4 linked regions of the Homo sapiens genome follow. The protein of the gene in region 3 interacts with the protein of the main gene of each other region in a pairwise test. Each region holds a gene or a part of one and is shown on either strand. Other genes may lie near its edges.

The links.
Region 1: the proteins of SH2B2 (region 3) and ASB6 interact in binary tests that used the Homo sapiens proteins (3 or more experiments, as listed by UniProt).
Region 2: the proteins of SH2B2 (region 3) and DUSP13B interact in binary tests that used the Homo sapiens proteins (3 or more experiments, as listed by UniProt).
Region 4: the proteins of SH2B2 (region 3) and MAGEH1 interact in binary tests that used the Homo sapiens proteins (3 or more experiments, as listed by UniProt).

The regions. Positions count from the first base shown.
Region 1 is NC_000009.12:129,639,059-129,646,848, reverse strand, and holds the start of ASB6 (ankyrin repeat and SOCS box protein 6), read left to right. Parts: upstream 1-4,697; 5' UTR 4,698-4,849; coding exon 4,850-4,962; intron 4,963-6,126; coding exon 6,127-6,308; intron 6,309-7,340; coding exon 7,341-7,447; intron 7,448-7,538; coding exon 7,539-7,647; intron 7,648-7,790. UniProt on the Homo sapiens protein: Probable substrate-recognition component of a SCF-like ECS (Elongin-Cullin-SOCS-box protein) E3 ubiquitin-protein ligase complex which mediates the ubiquitination and subsequent proteasomal degradation of target proteins.
Region 2 is NC_000010.11:75,096,361-75,103,658, forward strand, and holds the start of DUSP13B (dual specificity protein phosphatase 13B), read right to left. Parts: upstream 3,153-7,298; 5' UTR 3,078-3,152; coding exon 2,671-3,077; intron 1,526-2,670; coding exon 1,352-1,525; intron 1-1,351. UniProt on the Homo sapiens protein: Dual specificity phosphatase that dephosphorylates MAPK8/JNK and MAPK14/p38, but not MAPK1/ERK2, in vitro. Exhibits intrinsic phosphatase activity towards both phospho-seryl/threonyl and -tyrosyl residues, with similar specific activities in vitro.
Region 3 is NC_000007.14:102,296,856-102,304,064, reverse strand, and holds part of SH2B2 (SH2B adapter protein 2), read right to left. Parts: intron 3,544-7,209; coding exon of another isoform or gene 3,515-3,543; coding exon 2,786-3,514; intron 1-2,785. UniProt on the Homo sapiens protein: Adapter protein for several members of the tyrosine kinase receptor family. Involved in multiple signaling pathways. May be involved in coupling from immunoreceptor to Ras signaling. Acts as a negative regulator of cytokine signaling in collaboration with CBL.
Region 4 is NC_000023.11:55,447,058-55,454,129, forward strand, and holds MAGEH1 (melanoma-associated antigen H1), read left to right. Parts: upstream 1-5,069; 5' UTR 5,070-5,317; coding exon 5,318-5,977; 3' UTR 5,978-6,509; downstream 6,510-7,072.

The sequences.
Region 1 (7,790 bases), on a different chromosome or scaffold from region 3:
TAGCAGCTCTTTATATATTAAGGTCATCCCCCTCTGTACATTGACGAGTCGGAGTGACTCCCAAACTCCCCGAGGACTAGGAGGCAGGGACAGGGCTGAGCTCTGGGTCCTTGTCCCCAGGACCCCCATCCTGCTGAAGATCTCTGGAGGTGGGTGGCAGGAAGGGGCTGGGCTGGCCAGGCGGTGAGTGGCAGTGACAAGGAAAAGAGAGAGAAGCGGAGAGCTGGAACCAGGGGCTCTGAGTGACAGAGCCCTAATGGGAGGCAGATGGAGGAAACAAGTCTGCCCTTGCTGACAGGAGGGAGGTCAGGGGGCACAAAGCCCTCTAAAGTTAGGAGCCTGGGCGGCGGGCAGGCAGCAGGGCCAGCCCCACAGGGTGGTGCCCCAGGGCTGTGAGAGGGCGGGGGTTAGCTCCCCCTCCTGCATGTCCAGACTCGTGAGCCCAGAGCTGGAGGAGCTGAGGACACTCGAGTCTCGGAGGCAGGAAGCGTGGAAAAGTTGCACCGACCGGGGCTGGAGGCCCAACCTCACAGTGCAGCCTGGGACAAGCGCCCAAACCTCTCTGAGCCCGTTTCTTTGTAAAATGGGGTAATAATATCACCTACTTAACAGGATTTAGGGAGATCAGTGCACCAAACATTCAGCATATCTAGTGCCTGGCATGTACAAGGGTCTCCGTAAATACAAGTGGGCTCGTGTTGTTGTTATTATAATGGCCCCCTCCTCACTCCTTCTCTGTCGGCGGAGCCCACCAGCCACGTCAAGGAGTTCGTCATTGGCTCCAAGACTGTCAGAGCTGGGAGGGCCCTCAGGTTATAGGTGAGGAAACTGAGGCCCAGAGACCAGAAGGGCCATGCCTAGGGTCACTCGTGACAGTGGGTTTATGTGTGCTCCCCAAAAAGATATGTTCCAGTCCTAGTCCTGGTGCCTGGAACGTGACCTCGTTCAGAAAAAGGGGTTTTGCAGATGTAATCAAATTAAGATGTGGCCATAATGGATTTGGGTGCGCCCTATAAATCCAGTGACCCATGCCCATTTAGAAAGGAGGGGGAAGGCTGGGCACGGTGGCTCACGCCTATAATCCCAGCACTTTGGGAGACAGAGGCGGGCGGATGACAAGGTCAAGAGATCGAGACCATCCTGGCCAACATGGTGAAACCCTGTCTCTACTAAAAATACAAAAAAAAATTAGCTGAGGGTGGTGGCACACGCGCACCACTGCACTCCAGCCTGGCGACAGTGCGAGACTCTGTCTCAAAACACAAAACAAAAAAGAAAAAGAAAAAGAAGGGAGCGGGGGATTTGGACAGTGGCATAGACAGCAGGAAGAAGGCTGTGTGGAGACAGAGGAAGGTGGACACTGGGGTGCTGCTGTCCCAAGCCGAGGTACCCCTGTGGTCACCAGGAGTGGGAGAGGCAAGAAAGGGACCTTCTCTGGAGTCTTTGGAGGGAGCGTGGCCCTGCCCACACCTTGAATTTGACCTTTCCGCCTCCAGAACTGTAAAGGAGTGAATTTCTGTTGTTTTAAGCCATCAGGTCTGCAGCACCTTGTTATAGCAGCCCTAGGGCAAAAGCAGGGCTCAGACGAAGTCAGCCCACCCAGCTCCACCGGGACCCCACGGGACTGCACCTCCCGCAGTTACTCACCATGCGCCCTTGGGTAAGTCAGGCCTCCGTCTCCTGAGGGTTGAGGGCCAAAGGCCATCACATAGGTGAGGAGACCGAGGCCTGACTCAACACGGGCATGGTGTCACGTGATCAAATGTGTTGTGTGATCAAACGAGAGAGGGGCTGTGAAGACCTGGGTCGCCTGAGAGCGGCTGTACCGTTCAGGGCCTCGCGATCCATTGAGGGGGACCCTTCAAGCAGGGGCAGACACTTCCAAACGCTCAGAGTCATGCCCAGGCAGGTGCACCCAGGGCAAGCACCCCATCTGGATGCAAATCGCTGTCTGGTAAGAATCTGGGCCCTTCTGATTTTTACAAGGCAAGTTGGAAAATCTCCATTTCCCTGGGAGCAAAATGTCCCGATTTCCCTCAGGAAGATACTTCTTTCCCTCAGCAAGAATCAAGGCAGACATGTGTGGGGAGCCGTGGGCCCTCGTAGTCTGCAGTTGCTTCTGGGACGCCCAAGCTAGTGTTGCCTTAAAGGGTCTTGAACCCAGCTGCCCACCCCCACCCCTCCTTCCTACTCCTTTAGGTAATGGAAGAGGAAGCAAACTGAGGCACTCTGAATGCCTGGCGTCGGAGGTGGTTTTCCGAGAGCCTGTCATTGGATCTGACAACAGCTTTAACAACCAGAGCCAGCAGTTACCAGCCGCTGCTGCCACACCCTCAACCTTGCCGGTTGAGGCTCGTTGCTTTGGGTTTTCTTGTACAGTTTGTTTTGCACATGGTAGAGGGCCTTACTCTGCCCATTTAAAAATGTTTCATCTGGCTGGGCGTGGTGGGCTCACGTCTGTAAGCCCAGTACTTTGGGAGGCTGAGGCGGGTGGATCACCTGAGGTCAGGAGTTCGAGAATAGCCTGGCCAACATGGTGAAACCCCGTCTCTACTAAAAATACAAAAATTAGCCTGGCGTGGTAGCGCATGCCTGTAATTCCAGCTACCTGGTAGGCTTGAACCCAGGGGTTGGAGGTTGCAGTGAGCCGAGATCCTGCCACTGCACTCCAGCTTAGGCAACAGAGTGAGACTCCGTCTGAAAAATAATAATAATAATAATAATAAATAAATAAATATAAAAATGTTTACTCTAAGACCCATCGGATTGTCTTGAAATGCGCCTTTAAATGTTTTTTTCCTGGGCTGGGCAACTCTCGCTGTCTGGCAGGTTCCAGGGAGAGGGGCCCAACTTGGCAGAGCAAGGCCCAGGAGGCCAACGCTGTGATGTGGACTGCTGGGGCGGGAAACCCCTCTTCATCATCAGCTTCCCAGAAGCAAGAAGGCATCAAGGCCCCCCCACGCAGACTCCAGGTGGGAGAGGAGGCTCAAATGCATGGCCCAAGGGGAGGTGCCTCGACTCCAGAAAAGTGGTTTTTCCAAGGCAAGCTGGAAATGTCCATTTCCATGTGAGCAGAATTTCCCGATTTCACCCAGGGAGAAATTTCTTTCCTACAGCGAGAACCAAGGCAGAAACGTGCTGGCAGCTGTGGACTCTGCGGCCTGGAGCTGCTTCTAGGAAGCCCAAGCTGGTGTTGCCCTAAAGGGGCTTAAACCCGGCTGCCCACTCCGCCCCTTCTTCCTGAACCAGAGGGTTTTGGCTCCTTCCCACTGAATTCCACTTCCACCAACAATTACAGTGCGCTGGCTCCAGCATCTCAGGTGAGTGTGATTATACTTTTTTTTTTTCTTTTTGAGACAGAGTTTCGTTCTTATTGCCCAGGCTGGAGTGTGATGGTGCGATCTCCACTCACTGCAACCTCCGCCTCCCGGGTTCAAGCAATTCTCCTGCCTCAGCCTCCCAAGTAGCTGGGATTACAGGCGCCTGCCACCACGCCCGGGTAATTTTTGTATTTTTAGTAGAGACAGGGTTTCATCATATTGGCCAGGCCGGTCTGCAGCTTCGAACTTCTGACCTCAGGTGATCCACCTGCCTCGGCCTCTCAAAGTGCTGGGGATTCTACCCATTTTACAGATGAGGAAATCCAAGTTCAGAGACAGGCGGTAGCACACTCCTGTGTTCCCAGCTTCTCGGGAGGCTGAGGCGGGAGGATCACCTGAGCCCAGGGGTTCAAAGCTGCAGTGAGTCATGATCACTACACTACACTCCAGCCTGGGAGACAGAGTGAGACCCTGTCTCTAAAAAATACACAAGATTCGGGCTGGGCACCGTGGCTCATGCCTGTAATCCCAGCACTTTGGGAGGCCGAGGTGGGAGGATCACGAGGTCAGGAGTTCGAGACCAGCCTGGCCAATATGGTGAAACCCTGTCTCTACTAAAAATACAAGAATAAGCTGGGCGTGGTGGCCAGCGCCTGTAATCCCAGCTACTCGGGAGGCTGAGGCAGGAGAATCGCTTGAACCCGGGAGGCGGAGGTTGCAGTGAGCCGAGATCGTGCCATTGCACTCCAGCCTGGGCAACAGAGCGAGACTACGTCCCCCAAAAAAACAAAAACAACAACAACAAAAAACAAGATTCACTGAGTCCATCAAGGCAGAGGTGGAGAGGGCTAGCAGCCGTCCTGGCCAGGTGCTCCCCGGGACAGAGAATAAGAAACTGAGGAGGGGACGTGCGAGTACCCTGGTCCTCATCATTCCAGTCAGCGGGCCGGGTGGTGACAGAGGTGGCCCAGCCCCTCTTCAGGGAAGGCGAGGGCCAGCCCGAACCGGAAGGGGCAGTGTCTGATGACCACAGCTCTCAGGGGCGCCCAGGGCCAGTGGGGCAGCGGCAGGGCCGAGAGCACGACCGGCGGAACTCGGACGGCGCCCAGCGGTCGCGGGCGGGATCGCAGGGCGAAGCCGAGCCGGGCCGGGCCCTGGCAGGAAGGGGCGGACCCGCCTGAGTCTCGGATCTGGCTTGGCTCGATCCTCCACTCTCCCACTCCGCTGGGGCCGCCCACTGGACATCGCCCGAGTCGGCCTGGCGGTCGTGCCCCAGGACGCGCCGAGGTCCTCCGAGCCCGCAGGGGGCGCTGTCGCCATATGGCCCACCCTGAGTCGGCGCGGGCAGGAAGTACGAGGGTCACTTCCGGCGGGGGCGCGGCTTGGACTGAGGAGCGGACCCGGCCGGGCGCAGGGGCTGGACTGGCGGAGCAGGTGGGGTCCGCGGCCGCCGGAGCGTTCCGGTCGGCGTCTGGGCATCTCGGCCTCGGCAGAAAGCGCGACGGCCCTGCTGCGCGGGGCCCGCGGCGATGCCGTTCCTGCACGGCTTCCGGAGGATCATCTTCGAGTACCAGCCGCTGGTGGATGCGATTCTGGGCTCCCTGGGGATCCAGGACCCCGAGCGGCAGGAGTCTCTGGACCGGTAACTCACCCCCTCCCGTGAGCTGGCCGAGGCCGCTCCGACCCCGCAGCGTCCCACTTTATCACCACAAGCCGGGCGGGGTGGATGCGTCCCCCTTGACAGAGGAAGGGACGGGCGGAAGCCGGGGTTGCGTGGCTCGGAGTGCGCGCTGCCCCGCGCGGATCCCACTCCTGCCCCTTGCATGGCGGAGACGAAGGGCGGGGAGGGCCCGAGGGCGGAGGCCCGCGGGTTGTCGCAGGGCCTGCGCCTCAGCCCCACCCTGTCGCCTGCCTGTCCTGTGCCACCCCCCGGCGTGGCAGAGGAGCAGGGTGGAATCCGTGAGGCCTCAGATGTTACCCCAGAGCAGTGTGAAGGTGGGCTTTTGTAGCAGAGTTTGCGTTTTTATAGACAAGAGCTGGTCTGTCGTGGACCTGCAGGAAAGGGGTCGGGAGCGAATCTGCATTCACTGCCCATGGTACTAGGCACCTGGGGTCCATCAGTGGCTCAGCAAAACCCCCGCCTTCTTGGCGCATGTGCTCCAGAGGAGAGACTGACAAGTAATTGTACGGCGGCACGCGAGGTGGAAGGGAGGGGAGAGCAGAAGGAAGGGGCTCGGCTCAGGTGTTGAGGGGGTTGTCAGTTGGTATTTCCAACACGTGGTAATGATGAGTCTCGCCATCCAGGGACTCTGGTGGAAACGTAGGCTTTCTTCATCAATATCAGCTGAAGGTCTCAATGTGAGGGGAGGGAGGAGGCTGTGTTGCTGTCCTGGCTGCAGGTGTTGCCGGGGCTGGGGTCCTGCGGGTTTGAGGATGGAAGGGCTTTCTGAGGAAGAAGCATCAAAGTCGGGCTTGGGCTCTTGGCCTCCAGGCTGGTGGTCCCTTCAGTCCCAGCAGCCCAGGTGTGTGAGGCTTTGTACCTAAGTCTGCGACCGGACTCTGGGCAACGCGGGAGGAGAGCGCAGACAGACCCAGCCCATTCTCCGCAAATCCCAGTCTGCTCCCGTATTAAGAGATGCAGCGTGGCCCTCTCTCTACTTCAGAGCTTCCCCCAAGCCCCTGTGACCCACAGAGCCAGGGCCCTGCTTGCTGATGATGATAGCAGGACTAAAGCCCACCAACCCACAGGCTGCGCGGTCACCCGGTCCCACAGCTGTGCCTACCCTCAGCCTCTCTCCTGTCCCAGGCCCAGTTATGTCGCCAGCGAGGAGAGCCGAATCCTTGTTCTCACTGAGCTGCTGGAGAGGAAAGCCCACTCTCCCTTTTACCAGGAAGGCGTGAGCAACGCCCTGCTCAAGATGGCTGAGCTGGGGCTGACGCGGGCGGCCGACGTTCTCTTGCGGCATGGGGCCAATCTCAACTTTGAAGGTCAGCGAGAGCCCCGGGGGTGGGCAGGTGGCTTAAACGCGGCCCGACGCTGGGTGGGCGCCCATGTCCCCAGCCTTGGCTTCTACCATCCTCTGAGGAGTGACTTCCCCCCCTTTATTTCCTGGGTGGCTGCAACTAAGGAAACTCCCATTGGGTGGCCTCCCACCCCCTGCGGGTTTTCACATGGCTCTTCCCACCTCTGTTCCAAGAGCGAGTGTTGCTGCTTCTACCATGTGATTGATTAGCAAACTTTCCCCAGCTCCCAGATTAATCCCCACTTCCATTAATGCAAAAATGCGGCTGCTGGCACTGTGCCCAGAGCTAAGGGAAGGTAATTTTCTGCTACTTACTCTGAGCCAATTTGTTTTTTTTTTTCTCATGCCGTAGGGAGAGGGGAAAACAGGCTGCATTAGGCATAAATCACCACAGGACACCCTGGCTCCTGGCTCCTGAGTGCCAGGGATGGAGATGGAGCCGAGCTCCTTTCTCTGTGTTTTTCAGCCCAGGGAGGGCAGGGTTAGTCGGCAGACAGGCAGGGCTGCCTTGTGACCTAATAGGGGCCTGAGACAGCCAGGCACGTCTCCTTTCCCCATCCGAAGACGGGCTTGGAGTCTGCTGGGCTCCTGGAGGGTCAAGGAGCTGAGACGGGAGGGCCGGTTCTGAAGCCAGTGACTTGGAGACCAGCTTGGAGAACCTGGCTGTTACCACCAGGCCTACAAAGCAGAGCCGCCAGAGCTGCTGTGTAGCGCGGCCTCCCAGCCATTCTGAGAGGGTGCGCCCCGTTTTATGGTCCCTTCTTACAGAAGAGGAAACTAAAGCCCCCAACAGCTTCAGTAGCGTGCCCACTAGAACACCCCGAGGGCCCTCTAGTATCTGGTGAGGACAGCTCTGTCCTAACCCTTGATGGTGACAGGAGGCTGGGCCTGTGCTTCTGGACACTTTAGGTGGGAGTTTGGGGCTGGGCTCTGGGTCCGGGGGCCCCATAAGAATGCGGACAGATAGGACCCACATGAGCTGTGTCTGCACCTTCAGACCCAGTCACCTACTACACGGCCTTGCACATCGCCGTCCTGCGGAACCAGCCGGACATGGTGGAGCTGCTGGTGCATCACGGGGCCGACGTTAATCGGAGGGACCGGGTAAGTGCCAGGTCCAGCTTGCTTTGAAGCAGGGTTGGGCAGGGGCCTGAGCAGCTTCCCAAGCCAACCTGGCTGTGCTTCCTTGGCTCAGATCCACGAGAGTAGCCCCTTGGACCTGGCCAGCGAGGAGCCTGAGCGCCTGCCCTGCCTGCAGCGCCTCCTGGACCTTGGAGCTGATGTCAATGCCGCTGACAAGCATGGTGGGTGCCTCCTGCAGGAAAGCAGGACAGCTGGGCCCCCAGGCACCTTGTGGGGGACACCCAGGGTGCCCCAGGACAACAGCTAGGTGGGCAGACTGGATGCTGGCCCTGGCTGGTGGCACAGCATGGCTGGGCACACAGGG
Region 2 (7,298 bases), on a different chromosome or scaffold from region 3:
GAGCTCAGGAGTTCGAGACCAGCCTGGGCAACATGGCAAAACCTTATCTCTACAAACAATGCAAAAATTAGCCAGGCATGGTGGCATATGCCAGTAGTCCCAGCTACTTGGGAGGCTGAGGTGGGAGAATCACCTGAGCCTGGGAGGTTGAGGCTGCAGTGAGTGGAGATTGCACTACTATACTCCAGCCTGGGTGGCACAGTGAGACCCCGCCTCAAAAAAAAAAAAAAAAAGAAAAATTAGCTAGGTGTGGTTGTGCAAACCTGTATTCCCAGCTACTTGAGAGGCTGAGGTGGGAGAATTGCTGAGCCTAGGAATTTGAGGTTGCAGTGAATGATGATAATCCCTGCATTCCAGCCTAGGCAACAGAGAGAGACCTTGTCTCTAAATAAATAAATAAAAATTTTAAAATGAAATATTACTAGGATCACTGTTCATAATAGTCAAAAAGTGGAAACAATTCAAATGTCCATATTCAGTAAAATGGATAAACTGTGGCATAATCATATGATGACTCCAGCAGTGAAAACATGAATGAACTTCAGGTACACATAACAATGTGGGTGACTCACAAATTTGAGCAAATGATCCCAGGCACAAAACACACACAACATGATTCCACTCATATCATTTTAAACAACAGGTGAAACTAACTACACTGTTTAGATATATAGGTGGTAAAACTTTACAGAAAATAATTAATTCAACAGATAGTGATTAACCACAGAGAATAGAAAAGTTATAATGAGAAGGATTCAGTAGGGGCTTCTGGGAGACAAGTAATATCCTTTTTCTTCACTGGGTGATGAAGCTGTTCATACGTGCTCTGTGCACATTTCCTTTTTCCTTTTTTTTTTCTTTCTTTGAGACAGAGTTTCGCTCTTATTGTCCAGGCTGGAGTGCAGTGGCACGATCTCGGCTCACTGCAACCTCTGCCTCCTGGATTCAAGTGATTCTCCTGCCTCAGCCTCCTGAGTAGCTGTGATTGCAGGCGTCCACCACCACACCTGGCTAATTTTTTGTATTTTTAGTAGAGATGAGGTTTCACCATGTTGGCCAGGCTGGTCTCGAACTTCTGACCTCAAGTGATCCACCTGTCTTGGCCTCCCAAAGTGCTGGGATTACAGGCGTGAGCCACCGCACCCGGCCCTGTGCACTTTTCTTATGTGCATTCTAGTTCCACAGTTAAAAGCAGTAATAATATAAAAGGAAAGAAACATAGGGAAAGAGACGGTGGGAGGCAAGCGTGCCACCTCTGCCCTAGAGGGCTCTGAGAGAGGCTCATGCCCCCATTCCCGTGTGAACCTCACACCCTTCCGCCATCCCCACTCCTAACGTGGGTCTTACTCACGCATCTCCCAGGAAGAGGCTGGGCCAGACCTCATCGATATGGTTCAGTGTGGCAGCCTGACGGACCCACAGCAAGCGCTGCAGCGAAGCCAATGTGGGCGGCTGGTAGGGAGATGCCTGGACTGCCCCATGGATCTTGGGCCTCCGGAGGTCCTGCTTCTGCAGTGAGTCCATCCTGGAACAGAGTGGACACCGCAGTGGCTGGAGGCAGGCTCCCAGAGGGTGGATCCAGCTGATGGGGAAGCCCATGGTGCAGTGCCTAGGTGCCACGGGGATGCTGCAGGAAGGGCTTCATCTATTTCACATGAGGTATTAACAAGCTCAGCTGGGGCTGAGGCCTAGAACCCTTCCCCAGGGAACAAGGGAATCAAGCCTTTGTCACTGCTATGGAGCTGGGCAGACCTCTCTCCTGCCCTCTGCTGAGCTGCAGATGTATGAAGCTTTGGCCAAGGGGCCCTTGGAGTTCCCTGTTTGTGGCACTAGTCAGTGCAGATCTCATCCCTAAATCAGCTTGGACTTTGTAGGGATGAAAGCCCCAGATGGCTGTGGCTCTCAGGGCACCCAGGAAGCCCCCACCAACCTAAGCAGCTCATCTCAAGCCCCCTCACCTGCTACTTCCAGTACTCATCCTCAGACCCCCGTCCCCTCCCACTTTCAGGGGCTTGGAGATCAGAGCCTATCTCCAGGTAAGAGGCCAGGACTGTGAACTGGTATTTGTTAGCAACTCCGCATGGAATGAGCTAATGCCTCTTATAAGCCTGATGCCTCTGGCTGGGCACGGTGGCTCACACTTGTAATCCCAGCACTTTGGGAGGCTGAGGCAGGCAGATCAACTGAGGTCAGGAGTTCGAGACCAGCCTGGCCAATGAGGCAAAATCCTGTCTCTACCAAAAATACAAAAATTAGCCAGGTGTGGTGGTCCACTCCTGTAGTCCCAGCTACTAGGGAGGCTGAGGCAGGAGAACCTTTTGAACCTGTGAGGCAGAGGTTGCAGTGAGCTGAGGTCACACCACTGCACTCCAGCCTGGGCAACAGAGCGAGAGTCCATCTCAACAACAACAAAAAGCCTGATGTCTCACTCGTGGGATATCTGTTCCTATTTTACCCAGGAGGAAGCTGAAGCTCAGAATGTTTTAAAAGTGATGCCCAAAGCCATACGGCTCATGAGTAGCAAGGCTGGGGTTTTAGTCCATCCCCAAGCCTTTCAGTTACCATCTTTGGGGCCTCCAGAGAGTGGTCACTAACCCATCTGCTTCCTCAAGGGAGCCTGGTACTGCTGAGCCACACACCTGCCTACAGGCCCTGGGTTTTCCTCCTTACCCCCACGACTCAGGCCAGCACTGGATGTCAGGCCCCACCCGGGTCAGGTAGCTTGTTTCAGGCATCTGCTGGCTGAAGGAGTCAGGGACCCTGCGGAGCTGGATTTTCAGCGGCACCAGAATATGGGCCTGGTGCCGTGTTGGAGAGGGGGTCCTGTCTTTGCTAACTGCCCCTGATCCCCTGGACCAGTGACTAGGGAAGGTGCATACTGGGAAGAACATCTTTTCCCTTTGGTAGGCAGTGCCAGGACCAGAAAAAGAAACAGGCACCCAGGAGGCTGCCGGCTTGGCCAGGCTCACCCAGTGGGAGGCTGTCGGGCAAGGCGGAAGTGAAGACCAAGCTGTCCTCCTCATCCCCCACTGTGACCTCTCCAGGTGGCTGAGTGGCCTGCCACCTACCTGGGGCATGGCCTGGGGCCGGGAATGGGGGAGTGGGTGCAGGGGCAGGACTCTGCCTGAGCGGAACAGGGCTGGGCAGGTTCTGCCCAGAACACAAACACTGTGAAGCGGCTAGAATTCCAGGTGCTGGCTGGGGCGCCCATGGGGGGTGGGGCCTGAGAGCCGACTGAGGCCTTGTGGACTGCAGTGGGCCCTCCGGTCCCTCTAAACCCCCAGGCCTCCTCTCTGCTTGGTATCTGTTTGGGATTGAAGACCGTTGGTTCCATAAACCTCCATGAAGATGGGAGTCTACCTGAAGAGGTGGGAAGAGAACTTCTGAGGCAGGGAGGAGAGCCTGGCTCCCCCAGCACTCTGCCATAACTCATTCTGTGGCCACGAGCAAGTCTTTGCTCCCATCTGGACCACAGTTTATCTTCCCATGCTAGGGATGCTGGACTTAATTTTCAGGATGCTCTGGGGGTCTGACCCGAGAATGAGAGAGGAGTGTCTGGATATGCGGTCACTGCAGGGCAGAGGGCAGTGTAGTGTGGTGGAGTTGGGGAAGCCCCCAGGACCCAGAGGAGTCCAACAGCCACACTGGTCTGGAGCCATCAGGTGGGGCTGCACCACCCCAGGCAGGAGATGGGGCTTTGGGAAGTGGGACAGGCTCCGGGCTCAGGCCTGCGGAGCTTGGCATGGGGTGAGGCTGCCCCCTGGTGGCCAATGGGTGTGTCACAGCCCAGCCTTGCCAGGGAGCAGGCAGCCAGGCTCCACCCCCAGGAGGCTCCAGAGGGGTCAAGGATTTGGGGGCTGGTAGGCCACAGTGCATGCCTCTGCCTCCGAGGGGACCTAGGCCCAGGTCTGAAGAACGGGGCTCTCCCCTGGACTTAGCGCTATGCCTGGTCAGGCTCCACCTAATGCCTTGCTCCCGATGCTCAGGGTGTTGCCCCACCTGTCCACTCTAACCCACTGGGACCCAGCCCATCCCATCAGTCAGAGTCAGGCCCGGCCACCCCCCCAGGGACTCGTCCTTTAAGCCCCAGTCCCTCCCAAGGAGGGGAAGTCGGTGGTTGTGGCAGCTCCGCCGGTTTCTGACACCTGAGACTTGGTCTTCGGAGGGCCCTGCCTGACACTACATTCCATGTCTCCTTGTCCCCAGCTGGGTGAAGCACAGGCCCAACGTCCAGCAGGGCCAGGGCCCGGCCGAGCTCCCCTCCCACTCCCTGCAGTCTTCCTTCTCTCCCTGATCCCGTGCTCCTCCTCGCCCCCTTCCTGCCTCCCCCGCTCAGCAGAGCAGCTGCCTCTGTAGGCAGGGCTTTTCCTGGCTGCTCCTGTGCTGCTGCTGTTTGCAAGTCCATGCACTTCTTTTCTGTGTTTGCATCTCTCCTCCCTGGGTCACTCCCCCGTTTGCCTCTGTCTCCCATCCTCCCCCAGGAAGCTCATGTGCCTTTGCAGCCTCCCATGACGCTGCTCTGTGTGCCCAAGACATCGGGCAGAGGCACAGGCTTCCTTGGGGCAGGGGGCAGCTGTTTGCCATCCACCTCTCAGCTGCAGTTTCAGATAGTCCCCTGGACTTTCTTCCTGCCCATCCTTTCTGACTCCACTCCAGGGAGGCCAGACAGAAGTGTGGCCACAGGCCATGTGGGGCTGGAGATCTCAGGGCAGGACCAGTGAGGAGTGTGGGGAGAAGGCCTGCAGAAGGGTGGCGTGTGGCTGCCAGTGGGGAACAGCTGTGGGTCTCTGTGCTCAGCCTGAGGGTCTTGGGGAGGGCAGACCTGGGTAGAAATCTCAGGTCTGGTACTTGCAGCTATGTGGTCTTGTCTTCACCAAGCCAGTTTCTTCAGTGGGGCTGCTGTGAGAATTCCATGTAATAATTAATGTAAAGCACCTCCCACAGGGTCTGTCTTATGGTAGATGCCCAATAAATGGCACGTCTTACTATTATTATCACTACTATAATTACTCTTACCCTTTCCAGCCCCAGCCATATCCTATGTGGAGGGTAACTTCCCTACGGGACAGTGAGATTTCTTCTCTATCTCTGTATTTCTTGATATTTCTTTCTCTGTCCAGCAATAATTGTTATATTTAGCACTCATCAAGGATGTACTATGTGCCAGACAGAGCTAGGTGCTCACATTTTCTCATTGAATCCTCACAGTGCCTTTATGGAGCAGGTAATATTATCATCCCCATTTTACAGATGAGGAAACCGAGACTCAGAGAGGTTAAGCAACATACCCAGAGTCACATAGCCAATTGATGTGGGAGTCAGGATTCAAACCCAGGTCTCTCTGACTCTACTATACCTTGTCTGCGCCTTCATCTCTGACCCAGTCGGTTCTCTACCCAACCCAAACCCCACCCCTCCCCACACAGGCACAAGTGTCCTGGCCCTCATTACCCAGCATGCTCAGGGACCACATCCTACCCCCCCCAAATTAGGAGCACTCACCCACCTGTGGGAGTATCTGGCCCAGGCTGTGCACTTCTCTGACGGGCAGTTCGTGCTGCTGGCTTTCAGCCGCCTGTCTCCGCACACTTGATGCTGTTTCTATTTTTTGATTTGAGTTTAATTATAAAGCATGCTGTCTACTCCCCTCTTCCAGCCTCCCCTGCCACTCCCAACTTGTCCACTGGTTCCATGGCATGGCCAGTGCCAAGCACAGTCAGGCACCTTTCCCTCCAGGCCCAGGCCTCTGTCCCAGCACTGCTAAGAATCAAGGCAGCTCAGCCCAGGTCTGACTGTGGCATATTGTGTACATGTATGTTGATAGTGGGAGAAGGGGCCGGGCGCGGTGGCTGAAGCCTATAATCCCAGCACTTTGGGAAACCGAGGAGGGTGGGTCATGAGGTCAGGAGATCGAGACCATCCTGGCTAACAGGCTAGCCGGGCGTGGTGGTGGATGCCTGTAGTCCCAGCTACTCAGGAGGCTGAGGCAGGAGAATGGCGTGAACCCGGGAGGCAGAGCTTGCAGTGAGCCGAGATCGCGCCACTGCACTCCAGCCTGGGCGACAGGGCGAGACTCCGTCTCAAAAAGAAAAAAAGAAAAAACAAAAAGAAAAAAAGAGATAGTGGGAGAAGGAAGATCAAATAAACCATTTTAAAAGGTCCCTTGGCCGGATGCAGTGGCTAATGCCTATAATCCCGACACTTTGGGAGGCTGAGGTGGGAGGATTGCTTGAGCCCAGGGGTTCAAGACCAGTCTAGGCAATATAGCCAGACCCTGTCTCTACTAAAAATACAAAAAATTAGTGAGTTGGGCTGGTCGCGGTGGCTCATGCCTGTAATCCTAGCACTTTGGGAGGCCGAGGTGGGCGGATCACCTGAGGTCGGGAGTTCGAGACCAGCCTGACTAACATGGAGAAAACCTGCCTCTACTAAAAATACAAAATTAGCTGGGCGTGGTGGCGCATGCCTGTAATCCCAGCTACTCGGGAGCCTGAGGCAGGAGAATCATTTGAACCCGGGAGGTGGGGGTTGTAGTGAGCTGAGATCACGCCATTGCACTCCAGCCTTGGCAACAAGAACGAAACTCCGTCTCCAAAAAAAACATTAGCTGGTTGTGGTGGCACACACTTATAGTCCCTCCTACTCGGGAAGCTGAGGTGGGAGAATCACCTGAGCCCAGGAAGTCAAGGCTGCAGTGAGCCCTAATCCTTGACCATGCCATTGCACTCCAGCCTAAGCAACTGGAGTGAGACCCTCTCCCTTGGCCTTCAAGGGTATTATAGAAGAAGGGCAGGAAGTTCAAGTTGGAAGGATGTTCTGTGGAGGAGGACAGTGAAGAGGCTAGCCAAAAATCACATGTAAACTGGTGGCATTGCCAACAGCAGGACCCAGGTCCGGGGCCCTCAGTTAGGGGCCAAGGCCGATGGGACAGGTCCAGGATAAAGACCTAGAAGACTCAGGCTGAGGGAAGCAGCACAGGCCCACACACAGACACAGGTGTAGAGCAGGTCTTCAGACAGCCCTGGGCTGCAGGCAGAAGCAGTGTGTCCAGGGCCACTCCCACCCTCTGCCAAGCTCCTCCCCCAACCCAAAAGGCAGGGACACCCAGGCCCCACTGTCCCCTGAGGCCAGAGAGATGGTCTTTAAGGTCTCTCCCCATGCTAACTGTGGTCAGCTAGGACCTTCAATTGGGCCTACTAGAAATCTTCTCTGTCATCCACAGACCTTTGTCATACACACATACCTTGATACTACTCCCCGCTTGCACTCCCAGATGGTGGGAACAGGGCACACCCATG
Region 3 (7,209 bases):
ATTTGGGAAACTCAACCAAGTTCTTAGCATGGTAGGAGCTGCCCTCCCATGGGAATGACTCCTGAATACCCACAAATGCCCCCACCTTTGCATGACACAAAGGAGGGGAAGGGCCCAGTGACCCTGCAGGAACGCTGCCCTCTGCCAGCAGCAAAATTAGTGGGCTCTGCTGGGACTAAGCGGTGGAGTGGGGCGGGGGCGGGCACCAGCTGCTCCTTCCCCTTCTCCGAGGGCAGCAGACACTGCTATTTACAGAAGGGCAGCTGTGACTGTCACTCAGGCCCAAGGCACTGGAGCCCTGGGCTTCTGTCCCTGCCCTCTGGGTGACCCCGGGTAAGCCCCACCCCACCCGTCACTGGGCCTCGGTTTCCCTTTCTGACAAGGAGTGGAGTCGGGCTTAGGGGTCTAGGATTTCTCCCAGGGAATTAAAGGCAGGGGCCTGGGCAGGAAAAAAGCCCTAGGGAAGTGTAGGGGTGCTGGGACCTGGGGAAAAAGCTCTTCAGAGAGTAGCTGTGTCCCTGGGAAGTCACTTTTCCAGGGCCCATGTGGCTCATGGGCAATGAGCCTTGGGGAGCCCACACCCCTGCACCCCAGCAGACTGAGAGATGGAGAGAGAGCCAAGAAGCGGCGGGTGACTCAGAGAGCACCCAGGGACAGAGTGGGCCCTGATGCGGGAGGTGGGTGTGGGGTCCCCGGTGGTCCCTGGGGGTGCTGTCGGCTGCTGCACCAGCAAAACCTCCCCCTGCCTAAACCTCTCAGTGCCCAAGGACCTCCACTTCCATGTTCCTTTCGTTCTTGGGACCACCAGGGTGGCAGGTATCATTAGATCGGATTTTTTTTTTTTTTTGAGACAGAGTTTCGCTCTTGCTGCCCAGGCTGGAGTGCAATGGCGTGATCTCGGCTTACCACAATCTCTGCCTCCTGGGTTGAAGTGATTCTCCTGCCTCAGCCTCCCAAGTAGCTGTGATTACAGGCATGTAATCCTGTATTTTTATTAGAGACGGGGTTTCTCCATGTTGGTCAGGCTGGTCACGAACCCCTGACCTCAGGTGATCCACCTGCCTCGGCCTCCCAAAGTGCTGGGATTACAGGCATGAGCCACCGCGCTCGGCCCCCAGTTTTTTGTTTTGTTTTGGTTTGGTTTTTTGAGATAGGGTCTCACTCTGTCGCCTAGCTTAGAGGGCAGTGGTGCAGTCTTGGCTCACTGCAACCTCTGCCTCTTGGGTTCAAGCGATTCTCCTGCCTCAGCCTCCCAAGTAGCTTGGACTACAGGTGCGCGCCACCATGTCCTGCCATGTTAGACCAGCTCTGGCACCCGCCAGCTGGGTGACGTTGGGCAGGCCACACTTCCCTCTCTGAGCATCTGTCTGCGCTCTCTTCTGTAATCTGGGGACCATGTGCTCACCTCGCTGGGGTGGGGTACCCAGAGGATGACAGTGTGTCTGTGCAGATGCCCACCAGGCTGGGGTCTGGACACACTGTGGGCTCTCAGAGGGTGGGCACTATTGTTACAGCTATTCCCACTTTCCAAAGCAGGGGGGCCACCTTGGAGAAGACGTGACACTACTGCCAGGGACCTGATGGCCAGCCCCTAAGAGGGGAAGGGTCAGTGCATGCCAGTGAGCAACAATGTTGGTGACAGCCAGAAAGAAGCCTGGCATCCCCCTGGCCAGAAAAGGACCCCCTGGGCAGGGGCTGGGCTGGAGTCTGGCAGCTGAGCTGGGGAAGAGCAGAGCCCCATGGAGTCAGACACAGACCTCCCAGGGAGCCCTCTGCGAATGTGCTCGGTCACTCCTGCCCTCATCCCTGCAGGCCTCGGCTCTGGGAGGTGCCAGGCACCCTTGGGCTGCAGGAGAGGAGGGCAGGTAGCCAGGCTCTTGAACAACATCAAGAACGGTGCCCTGGGCTGGGCACAGTGGCTCATGCTTGTAATCCCAGCACTTTGGGAGGCCAAGGTGGGGGAGGATCTCTTGAGCTCAGGAGTTCCAGACCACTTGAGCAACATAGTCAGATCCCGTCTTTACGAAAAATAAAAAACATTAGCTGGGAGTGGCGGTGTGTGTGGTCCCAGCTACTTGGGATGCTAAGAAAGGACTGCTTGAGCCTGGGAGGTGAAGGCTGCAGTGAGCCATGATTGTACCACTGCATTCCAGCCTGAGTGACGGCCCCTGTCTCAAAACAAAAAGGAAAGAAAGGCTGGACATGGTGGCTCACGACTGTAATCCCAACACTGGGAGGCTGAGGCAAGCAGATCACTTGAGGTAAGGAGTTCAGGACCAGCCTGGCCAACATGGCAAAACCCTGTCTCTCCTTAAAATACAAAAATTAGCCGGGCATCGTGGTGGGTGCCTGTAAATCCCAGCTACCTGGGAGGCTGAGGCAGGAGAATCCCTTGAGCCTGGGAGGCACAGGTTGCAGTGAGCCGAGATCGTACCACTGCACTCCAGCCTGGGTGACAGAGGGACACACACACACGCGCGCGCACACACACACACACACACACACGGACACACACACACACACACACGAAAAGAAAAAATTAGTGCCCCAGAACCCTTTGGTGTAGCCAGAGGACCCTTCCTCGCAAAGGAAGAACCGGGGTTGAAGGGGTGACTTGTTCAAGAGGCATGACAGGCCCACCTCCCAGGGTCCTGGCACCAAATACTTCACCCTGTCAACCAGATTAGACCACGCGGTCCCCAAAGGCAGTCCCTGGCACCCTCAGCTGCTGCCCAGGTGCCTCCTCTGGTCCCCCCAGGCTAGGTGGGATTATGGGGTAACTCACTTTGGGCGGCACGAAGAACTCCAGGCGGAAGCGTTCCTCGGCCACAGCCCTGCGCAGGAGCAGGCGGCACTTCTGCCACTGAGCCGAGCCCCCGGAGCCCGCGGCCGCGTCGTCGGCCACCATGAAGCGCAGCGCCCCCTCGCGTTGAATGTCCACCAGCTCCACCTTGGCAGCCAGCGTCCGCGACAGCCTCAGGCGCCGCGTCCACTTGTCGCGGGGCTCGGCGGTGCGCGGGGCAGCTGCCGCGTCGGGCTCGGGCGAGGCGCGCCGGTGCCACATGTCGCGCACGCCGTCCACCACGCACAGGCTCATGTTGCGCAGCGAGAAGCCCTTGCGAACGCGGGCCTTGGTGGCCGCGTGCGTGGACACGTCCTCCGAGCTCCGCGAGTGGCCGTAGGGCGCCGCCTTGAGTGCAGAGGTGTCCGCGAGCTCCGGCTCCATGGCCTCTGCGCTCACGGCCGCGCCCCGAGTCGTCGGCCCAGCCACCAGCACGCGGCGCACCTCCTCGCCGAAGACGTCCAGGAAGTTGGCGGCGAAGTGGCGGGAGAAGGAGGCGCCGGCGTCGGGCGTGTCGTAAGCTGGGTTGTCCCGCAGGAAACGGCAGAACTTGTGCGCAAAGTCCACGGCGGCCGCCTGCGCATGCAGCTCGCAGAACTGCCGCCAGTCCGGGACCGGGACCGGGACTGGGACCGGGGCGGCTGCGGCGGGGCCAGGGCCGGCACCATTCATGGCTTCCGTCCCATCGCAGCCACCTGCGGCTTCGGGCGAGAAGAGCGCGCAGTGACTTTCAGGCCTGTGATCAATGCGCCCACCTGTCCCCTCCTTCCAGCTCCCCTAGGACTCTCTGGGGCTGTGTGGGTGTGTGTGTACATGCACACGTGTGTGTTGTGGGACTACAGCAGGCAGCCATTCCAAGCAGCATGGATGTGTGTAAAGAGAAAGACAACTGGGGCCGGGCGCGGTGGCCCACGCCTGTAATCCCAGCACTTTGGGAGGCCGAGGTGGGTGGATCACCTGAGGTTGGGAGTTCGAGATCAGCCTGGTCAACATGGTGAAACCCCGTTTCTACTAAAAATACAAAAATTAGCCGGTTAGCCGGGTGTGGTGGTGCACGCTGTAACCCTAGCCATCGAAAGGCTGAGGCAGGAGAACTGCTTGAGCCCAAGAGGCAGAGGTTGCAGTAAAAATACAAAAATTAGCCAGGAGTGGTGGCACACGCCTGTAGTCCTAGCCACTCCGGAGGCTAAGGCAGGAAAATCACTTGAACCCAGGAGGCAGAAGTTGCAGTGAGCCGAGATTGCGCCACTGCACTCCCGCCTGGGCGACAGAGGGAGACTGCAAAAAATAAGAGAAAGACAACTGGGGAGGCAGGAGGTGGTGTCTGCAGAAGGGGCAGTCCTGCATTCATTCTCTCCCCAAATAGTAGTCTCAGGGACCTCAGGGTCATTCCTGGGGCTGGCAGAAGAGGCTGGGATGATGGATGCTTTCAAGTGGGGTCCCCATGAGCCTCTGGTGACCTCACTTCCTCAGTGACCTCTTCTGATGTTCCCCAAAGCCCGGTAGAAAGGAAGAAATCACATGGAATCCTGCTGGCTGGACCTTTGAAATATACCGAGGACTCAGCTCCTTCCTCCAGGTCCAGGCTGCCGTCCTGGGATTCGCATAACTATTTTTCCTGCATGCAGCACTCCAGCAGCTGCTTTATGGTCCCCGGGATCCTGATCTTACTTCCTCTAAAGTCTGTTCTCCTCCCAGGAGCCCAGTCATTTCCAAAACTCAAGACTGCCATGTGCGGTGGCGCATGCCTGTAATCTCAGCACTTTGGGAGGCCGAGGCGGGTGGATCAGGAGGTCAAGAGATTGAGACCATCCTAGCCAACATGATGAAACCCCGTCTCTACTAAAAATACAAAAATTAGCTGGGCATGGTGGCATATGCCTGTAGTCCCAGCTGACTGAGAGGCTGAGGCAGGAGAATCGCTTGAACCCAGGAGGCGGAGGTTGCAGTGAGCCGAGATCCCACTACTGCACTCCAGCCTAGGTGACAGAGCCAGACTCCACCTCAAAAAAAAAAAAAAAAAAAGCCAGGCGCGGTGGCTCATGCCTGTAATCCCAGCACTTTGGGAGGCCGAGGCGGGCGCATCACGAAGTCAGGAGATCGAGACCATCCTGGCTAACACAGTGAAACCCCATCTCTACTAAAAATACAGAAAATTAGCCGGGCGTGGGGGCAGGCACAGGCTGAAGCAGGAGAATGGCGTGAACCTCGGAGGCGGAGCTTGCAGTGAGCCGACATCGCGCCACTGCACTCCAGCCTTGGCGACAGAGCGAGACTCCATCTCAAAAAAAAAAAAAAAAAAAAAAAAGAGAAGAAAGAAAGAAAAAGTAATAACAAAAAAATTGTCTTGGCCGGGCACATTGGCTTACACATTGGCCTGTAATTCCAGCACTTTGGGAGGCCAAGGTGAGCAGATTGCTTGAGCTCAGGAGCTCAAGACTAGCCTAGGCAACATGGCAAAAGCCTGTCTTTACAAAAAATACATAAAATTAGCTGGGCAAGGTGGCACACACCTGTAGTCTCAGCTATTCAGGACGATCACCTGAGCCTGGAAGGTTGAGGCTACAGTGAGTTGTGATGGGGCCACTGTACTCCAGCCTGGGGACAGAGCGAGACCCTGTCCCAAAAAATAAACAAAAAAAGTTGATCTGAATGTGGTGACATGCCTATAGTCCTAGCTACTCAGGAGGATTACCTTAGCCTGGGAGGTTGAGGCTACAGTGAGCTGTGATGGCACCACTGTACTTCAGCCTGGGCAACAGAGCAAGACTCTGTCTCAAAAACAACAACAACAACCAATCTGGATGTGGTGGCATGCCTACAGTCCTAGATACTAAGGAGACTGAAGTGGCAGAATCGCTTGAGCCCAGGATTTGGAGGCTGCAGTGAGCTATGATCGTGACAATGCACTTCACTTGGTGATAGAGACTCTGACTCAAAAACAAAACAAAACAAAAACAAAAACCCAAAACCAAAATACAAGACAGATCACATCCCTCCTCTGCACAAAATCCTGCAGTGGTTCGTATTACAGTCAGAGTAAAAGCCAAAGCCCTATCCACAGCCCCTAGGGTCTGACATAATCTGCCTCTGTTTACCCCTCTGGATATACCTCCTGCCACTCTTCCCTGGCTGGACCTGCCTCCTTGCCCTCCCAGAAGCATAGCAGCCAAATTTCTACCTCAGGACCTTTGCACATGCCTGGAATGCTCTTTCCTCCACATTCCCTCACCTTCTTCAGGTTTCTGCTCAACCAATGGCTTGGCGGATAGCCTTCCCTGACCACTCTTGAGAATGACAAATCCCTCTGATGACAATACTCCCTCTGATGCGTTCATGCACTCTGCCTATTTTCACCATTATCCTTATTGCCGGCTGTCATATCATATATTTAGTTGCTTGGTTGTGTGTCCCCTCCACCCCCTTCCCCCGAGAATGCCAGTTTCACAAGGCAGGGATTTTGCCAGTCCTAGAAGCGGCTGTGTCCTCAGTGCTGGGCATACAGCAGGCGCTTGGGAAACACTGACTGAATGAACAAATGAATGAGTTTGGCACACCAGGCATGTCACAGCTGTCACCGCCTAAGCCCTCACTTGGGGCCTAAGGACAAACAGCTTGTTAGTGACAAGACAGGTCCAGGGTTCTCGCCCAGGTCTGCAGTGACTCCAGGACTTGAGGGGTCTCCTCCTAGTGTGGATCAAATATGGTAGTTCCCTCTCGTTCAAGGGGTATATGTCCCAAGAACCCCAGCAGATGCTTGAAACTGGCTAATACTGAACCTCTGTATACTGCGTGTGTGTGTGTGTGTGTGTGTGTGTGTGTGTGTGTAGAGATGGGATCTCACTCTATTGATGAGGCTGGTCTTGAACTCCTGGGTTCAAGCAATCCTCTGGCCTTGGCCTCCCAAAGTGCTGAAATTACAGGCACGAGCCACTTGCACCTGGCCCGCTACATTTTTTTTGGATCTAATAACCCAGACAACTCCTAAGTGGCGAGCGGGTCGTATCCAGAGTGCGGATATGCCAGACAAAGGGATAATTCACATCCCAGGCAGAACAGCGGGATGGTTTGAGACTTCATCCTGCTACTCAGACTGGCCTGCAATTTACATTTGTATTTGTATGTTTACTTCTGGGATTTTCTATTTAATATTTTCAGACCTCTGTTGACCACGGGTATCTGAAGCCTTGGAAAGCAAAGCTGTGGATAAGAACCAAGCGTTTTTTTGTTTTTTGTTTTTTTTTGAGACAGAGTCTTGCAGTGTCTCCCAGGGTGGAGTGCAGTGGCGAGATCACAGTTTACTGCAGCCTCCAACTCCTGGGCTCAAGCGATCCTCCCGCCTCAGCCTTCCGAGTAGCTCAGACTAC
Region 4 (7,072 bases), on a different chromosome or scaffold from region 3:
CCATGATCAAGTTGGCTTCATCCCTGGGATGCAAGGCTGGTTCAACATACACAAATCAATAAACATAATCCATCACATAAACAGAACCAATGACAAAAAAACACATGATTATCTCAATAGATGCAGAAAAGGCCTTCGACAAAATTCAACAGCCCTTCATGCTAAAAACTCTCAATAAACTAGGTATCAATGGAACATGTCCCAAAATAATAAAGGCTATTTATGACAAACCCATAGCCAATATCATACTGAATGGGCAAAAACTGGAAGCATCCCCTCTGAAAACCGGCACAAGACAAGGATGCCCCCTCTCACCACTCCTACTCAACATAGTATTGGAAGTTCTGGCCAGGGCAATCAGGCAAGAGAAAGAAATAAAGAGTATTCCCTTAGGAAAAGAGGAAGTCAAATTGTCCCTGTTTGCAGATGACATGATTGTATATTTAGAAAACCCCATTGTCTCGGCCCAAAATCTCCTTAAGCTGATAAACAACTTCAGCATAGTCTCAGGTTACAAAATCAATTTGCAACAATCACAAGCATTTCTATACACCAACAACAGACAAACAGAGAGCCAAATTATGAGTGAACTCCCATTCACAATTGCTACAAAGAGAATAAAATACCTAGAAATCCAACTTACAAGGGAAGTGAAGGACCTCTTCAAGGAGAACTGTAAACCACTGCTCAATGAAATAAAAGAGGATACAAACAAATGGAAGAACATTCCATGCTCATGGGTAGGAAGAATCAATATCGTGAAAATGGCCATACTGCCCAAGGTAATTTATAGATTCAGTGCCATCCCCATCAAGCTACCAATGACTTTCTTCACAGAATTGGAAAAAACTACTTTAAAGTTCATATGGAACCAAAAAAGACCCCACATTGCCAAGACAATCCTAAGCAAAAAGAACAAAGCTGGAGGCATCATGCTACCTGACTTTATAGTACAAGGCTACAGTAACCAAAACAGCATGGTACTGGTACCAAAACAGAGATACAGTCCAGTGGAACAGAACAGAGCCCTCAGAAATAATACCACAAATCTACAACCATCTGATCTTTGACAAACCTGACAAAAACAAGTAATGGGGAAAGCATTCCCTATTTAATATATGGTGCTGGGAAAACTGGCTAGCCATATGTAGAAAGCTGAAACTGGATCCCTTCATTACACCTTATACAAAAATTAATTCAAGATGGGTGAAAGACTTAAATGTTAGACCTGAAACCATAAAAATCCTAGAAGAAAACCTAGGCATTACCATTCAGGACATAGGCATGGGCAAGGACTTCATGACTAAAACATCAAAAGCAATGGCAACAAAAGCCAAAATAGACAAATGGATCTAATTAAACTAAAGATCTTATGCACAGCAAAACAAACTACCATCAGAGTGAACAGGCAACCTACAGAATGGGAGAAAATTTTTACTATCTACCCATCTGACAAAGGGCTAATATCAAGAATCTACAAAGAACTTAAACAAATTTTCAACAAAACAAACAACCCCATCAAAAAGTGGGCAAGGGATATGAACAGACACTTCTCAAAAGAAGACATTTATGCAGCCAACAGACACATGAAAAAATGCTCATCATCACTGGTTATCAGAGAAATGCAAATCAAAACCACAATGAGATACCATCTCACACCAGTTAGAATGGCAATCATTAAAAAGTCAGGAAACAACAGATGCTGGAGAGGATGTGGAGAAATAAGAAAGCTTTTACACTGCTGGTGGGAGTGTAAATTAGTTCAACCATTGTGGAAGACAGTGTGGCAATTCCTCAAGGATCTAGAACTAGAAATACCATTTGACCCAGTGATCCCATTACTGGGTGTATACCCAAAGGATTATAAATCATTCTACTATAAAGACACATGCACACATATGTTTATTGTGGCACTGTTCACAATAGCAAGGACTTGGAACCAACCCAACTGTCTATCAATGATAGACTGGGTTAAGAAAATGTGACACATATACACCATGGAATACTATACAGCCATAAAAAAGGATGATTTCATGTCGTTTGTAGGGACATGGATGAAGCTAGAAACCAACATTCTGAGCAAACTATCACAAGGACAGAAAACCAAACACTGTATGTTCTCCCTCATAGGTGGGAATTGAACAATGAGAACACTTGGACACAGGGAGGGGAACATCACACCCTGGGGCCTGTCGTGGGGTGGAGGGTAGGGGGAGGGATAGCATTAGGAGAAATACCCAATGTAAATGACGAGTTAATGGGTGCAGCAAATCAACATGGCACATGTATACCTATGTAACAAAGTTGCACGTTGTGCACATGTACCCTAGAACTTAAAGTATAATAATAATAGAAAAAGAAAATTAAATAAGTTGGAAATACAGTACGCCCAGCCAACAGGCAGACACTTGAAGAGATTATGGTAAATCCATTGCAAGGAATAACATTCAGCCACTAGAATGAAAGAATTAGAGGTATAAATTGAGGAGATTTCATTATTAATTAGGAAAAAGGTTTGCCTGGAAATTCAATATGGAATGGTTTGATTTTTATAAATGAAACAAAGTGGAAAGCCATGTGTTCTATCTAAACATATACATGCCAACACATCAGCAACCCTACTCGTTGATGTTGATCCTAGAGAAATGCATGCACATGTTCATAGGGAACATGCGCACAAATATTAATAAGAGTATTATTTTGTTTTGGAAAAATGGGAACTGCATAGGCGTGGATCATTAGGAACAGGATAAATTGAAAATGATGAAATGTACAAAATTAAAATAAATGAACTAGAGTTCCATGTATTTACATGGGTAAACATAAAAAATATAAAGTTGAGCTGGAAAACCAAAGTGTTGATCAATGTATACATTATGAAGACGTGCTTTAAATAAAGGAAGAGATTCTATATTGTGTACAGACACAGAAGTAGGTAGCAAATATATACAAGTCTCCATGGGCATAATTGCTGACTTCATTATAGAGGAGCACAGTGGGGAAGGAGAGAGCAGAGTGGGTCAGGGAAGACGTAATAGGAGGGTTTTGCCATATCCAATATATAAAAGATAAACAGTAAGTAGGGCCTAATATTTAAATTTTATACAGCTAGCTATTGGTGTTTATAATATTAATCTCTCTTCTTTGCCCTACGTTTGAGATTAAGTCGCAGTAAAAAAAAATTCATGCTAAAAACAAGCAAATAAACTGCAAAAGTAATCCTCCCATTTTTGTTTCATGAGGGTAGGATTGTACATGCTATAGACTTCCATGCAAGACCCAAATTCCTGGAAACAGTAAAATAAGTTCATACCTGTACTGAAAAACAATTCAGAGCAATTATCAATGGACCAGAAACTGCGAGAATTCTCAGAATGTGGGACAGCAGATGGAGCCAGACTACTGTTTTGAGTAGGTCATGTCCCAGAACGCGTGCAAAGGTTATCCCAAACGGAGGGCTGGCTCAAGAGTGCTCTGTGTCCTGGAGAGGTGCTTTCTTTGCTTGACCAAATTGATTTATTGCTAACTTACCCAACAGGAGGTCTCGGTGGGCTCTAATTATAAAGAAAATTTCAGCAAGACAGGCATAAAGTATTCATTTGTTTCTTAAGAGTTCAGTTAAGAACACCTATAAAATCTTTTCCATCATGAATTCCTTCAGCACGCATTTATTAAATGCCACACTCACACACCGCTTGGAAAACCTTGAGAGGCAAAATCTGTGCTTACCATGTAATAAATGCTTTTCATTTTTTATCTCATTTAATTCTCACAACCCTATGAGGGCTGTACTTTAGCCCCACTTTATAGATGGGAAAACAGGCTTAGAGAGAAGTGACTTGCTTAAACTAATACCTTGAATGACATAAGAAAGATATAGAGTGCTAGTTATAGGGCTTTCCTCAATGGAGTAAAAATGGACTCATTACCCTTTTGGGCAGATCAAGACAAGCTTCAGGGAGAAACAGGTCTGTGAGCAGTCAAATGGAATTTAGATAGTTGGAGAAGGCTGAGAAGACAGGTCAGGCAGAGCAAACAGTGAGCAAAAGCAAGCAGTGGATAAAGTTCAGAGTATGCTCTGAAAGAAGCAAAATAAATCAGGAGTCCAGGAAGACTGGAGCCTAGAAACCTTGGAGCCAATCTGAACTCCATCATCCCCTCCACATTCCCCACTTCATCCATTCTGTCTGCAAAGCCCTTCAACGGTCACCTTTAAAATGTCTTTCTGCCTCTCCATCCCCATGGCAACAGCCTTAAGGCATACTTTAGTTCCCAGTGCTTCTTATTCCAATTGCTTCCTATGTGGTCTGCCAGGAAACAGTTTGCTTTTCTGAGAGGCTGCACAAATGCAATTCCTCTGATCCTGTCACTGCCCTGCTTTCATACATACATACATACATATATGTGTGGTAGATATATGCACTGTATATAAACATAATGTGGTAGATATATGCACGATATAGGTATGTATGTATGTATGTATAAAAGCAGGGCAGTATATATATCGTGCATATATCTACCACATTTTAAAGGCTCTGCACCTCTTTCACCCTGCTTGTTTCTGCAGTCCCATCTCCTCACATCATCCAGCACATCTGCCATAACAATATTATCCGGGTCCTACATGGGACCACAAATTGATTAGTATACACACAAATGCCTTCTGAAAACAGGGCGAGTGAATGAACGCGCTGTGTAAGCCAAGACAGGAAAGGAAGGCTGGAGACAGCTGACTCCTTCCAAGAATACACCCTCCCGCCACCCCTGGCCTCCCAACCCCCAACACACACACAGCCCGTCGTCAGTGGGAATGGAGCCGACGCACTCCTTCCCTAGACCGTCGAGCCAATCTTGGAATGTTTGTAGTAGGCTGAAAATACAGAAACTTTAAGCTATTTTTTTCTCTTCTGCAAACTCCAGGCCCCTCCAATCTCTAGCTGTCATTTCTGCCCTTGTCCCACCCCTGTCGCTGCCTGCCCCTTTTCCTATCTGCTAGCGGAAGTCCCTGTGGAGGACCAGCCTACTTCCTCTTTGGTGCTAGGAGTGTGCGTGGCAGGAGAGGCGGGGCCAATTTTGCTGAGCTTTCTCGCGGGCTTGCAGCTGCGGCAAGTGCTGGCGGCGGCTGCTCGCGCAAGTCAGCTGGCGTGGGAACTACCCTTTGTAGCTGAGAACGGCTTGTTTATTGCTACAAAGACTCTATTGACATTGGTAGCTTCAGCGGCAGCAGCTTCTTACGGTATAAAGCTGTTGCTTCCTGAAGAGGCTACAAGCATCCTTCCCTAGGACTGCTGTAAGCTTTGAGCCTCTAGCAGGAGACATGCCTCGGGGACGAAAGAGTCGGCGCCGCCGTAATGCGAGAGCCGCAGAAGAGAACCGCAACAATCGCAAAATCCAGGCCTCAGAGGCCTCCGAGACCCCTATGGCCGCCTCTGTGGTAGCGAGCACCCCCGAAGACGACCTGAGCGGCCCCGAGGAAGACCCGAGCACTCCAGAGGAGGCCTCTACCACCCCTGAAGAAGCCTCGAGCACTGCCCAAGCACAAAAGCCTTCAGTGCCCCGGAGCAATTTTCAGGGCACCAAGAAAAGTCTCCTGATGTCTATATTAGCGCTCATCTTCATCATGGGCAACAGCGCCAAGGAAGCTCTGGTCTGGAAAGTGCTGGGGAAGTTAGGAATGCAGCCTGGACGTCAGCACAGCATCTTTGGAGATCCGAAGAAGATCGTCACAGAAGAGTTTGTGCGCAGAGGGTACCTGATTTATAAACCGGTGCCCCGTAGCAGTCCGGTGGAGTATGAGTTCTTCTGGGGGCCCCGAGCACACGTGGAATCGAGCAAACTGAAAGTCATGCATTTTGTGGCAAGGGTTCGTAACCGATGCTCTAAAGACTGGCCTTGTAATTATGACTGGGATTCGGACGATGATGCAGAGGTTGAGGCTATCCTCAATTCAGGTGCTAGGGGTTATTCCGCCCCTTAAGTAGATCTGAGGCAGACCCTTGGGGGTGTAAAAGAGAGTCACAGGTACCCCAAGGAGTAGATGCCAGGGTCCTAAGTTGAAAATGATGTCGATTGGGGGCGGGGGACACTGTATTTGATATTTGTGATCAGTGATCATTGTTCAACTGCGAAATAGAGTGTTTGCTTTTGATAATGGAAAATTGTATTCGTTTTAAAATTCCGTTTGTTGAGAATAACAATATGTTTAAAAATATAATTGAACAAATTTTTTTCTTTGTTTCCTGTCATTGACATTTAGTATAACAGTTTTGCTAACGTTCTAAAATGAAGTCGTTCCATCATAATCTATGATCTTGTACAGCACTTATAGAAATAAGCTGTTCTTTTGAAGTTGAAATACCCAGTAAAATGTTGAAGAAGGATGGAGGATTTCTTCATATCTGACGTTTCTGAAACCCTTTGTGTCTGCTGTTGTGTGAAGATTGACATTTACCATGATTTTCCTTAGTTACTGCAGAACATAGAGAAAAATAAAAGCCTAACGAATAGTACATCTTGCGCATTTTCTGACCACCTGTTATGTGAGGCACCAGTCTAGATTCTAGGGATACTCCCTAGTACACATCCTCCAGGTCCAAAGAATGTTCTAGATTATGTGGGAAAGAAAAATAGGTAAACTGGCAGTGCAGTAAATGCTGGGATAGAGAACGAGCCTGAAGTGCCATGAAAATGTAAAAAACCTTATGTGACCTGTCTTGGGGAGTGGGCCGGGGAAGGGAGCACCATAGGATGTGTGAAAATTCAAGAGACACTTAAATAAGTTTGGGGGGGACTGAAATATACGATCAGAATATATGATGAAAATATTATGTATTAGATATTTGATTGGATACTCCACCCAGCATAGGGGAGGGAGCACTGGCAAAAAGAAGAGGACATCACAGGGTGCCTGCCACGGAAGTAGAAAATACACAAAAATCATCTTGAGAGGAGGAGGGCAGAGAGAAGGGGTGGTTGCAGGGGAAAAGGTTGTCATGGGGTACTTCAGAAATAAAAAAAGATGAGACCGTCAGAAAATCTTGGTGAGGGGACAATCTGAGGTTTGGAAATAATA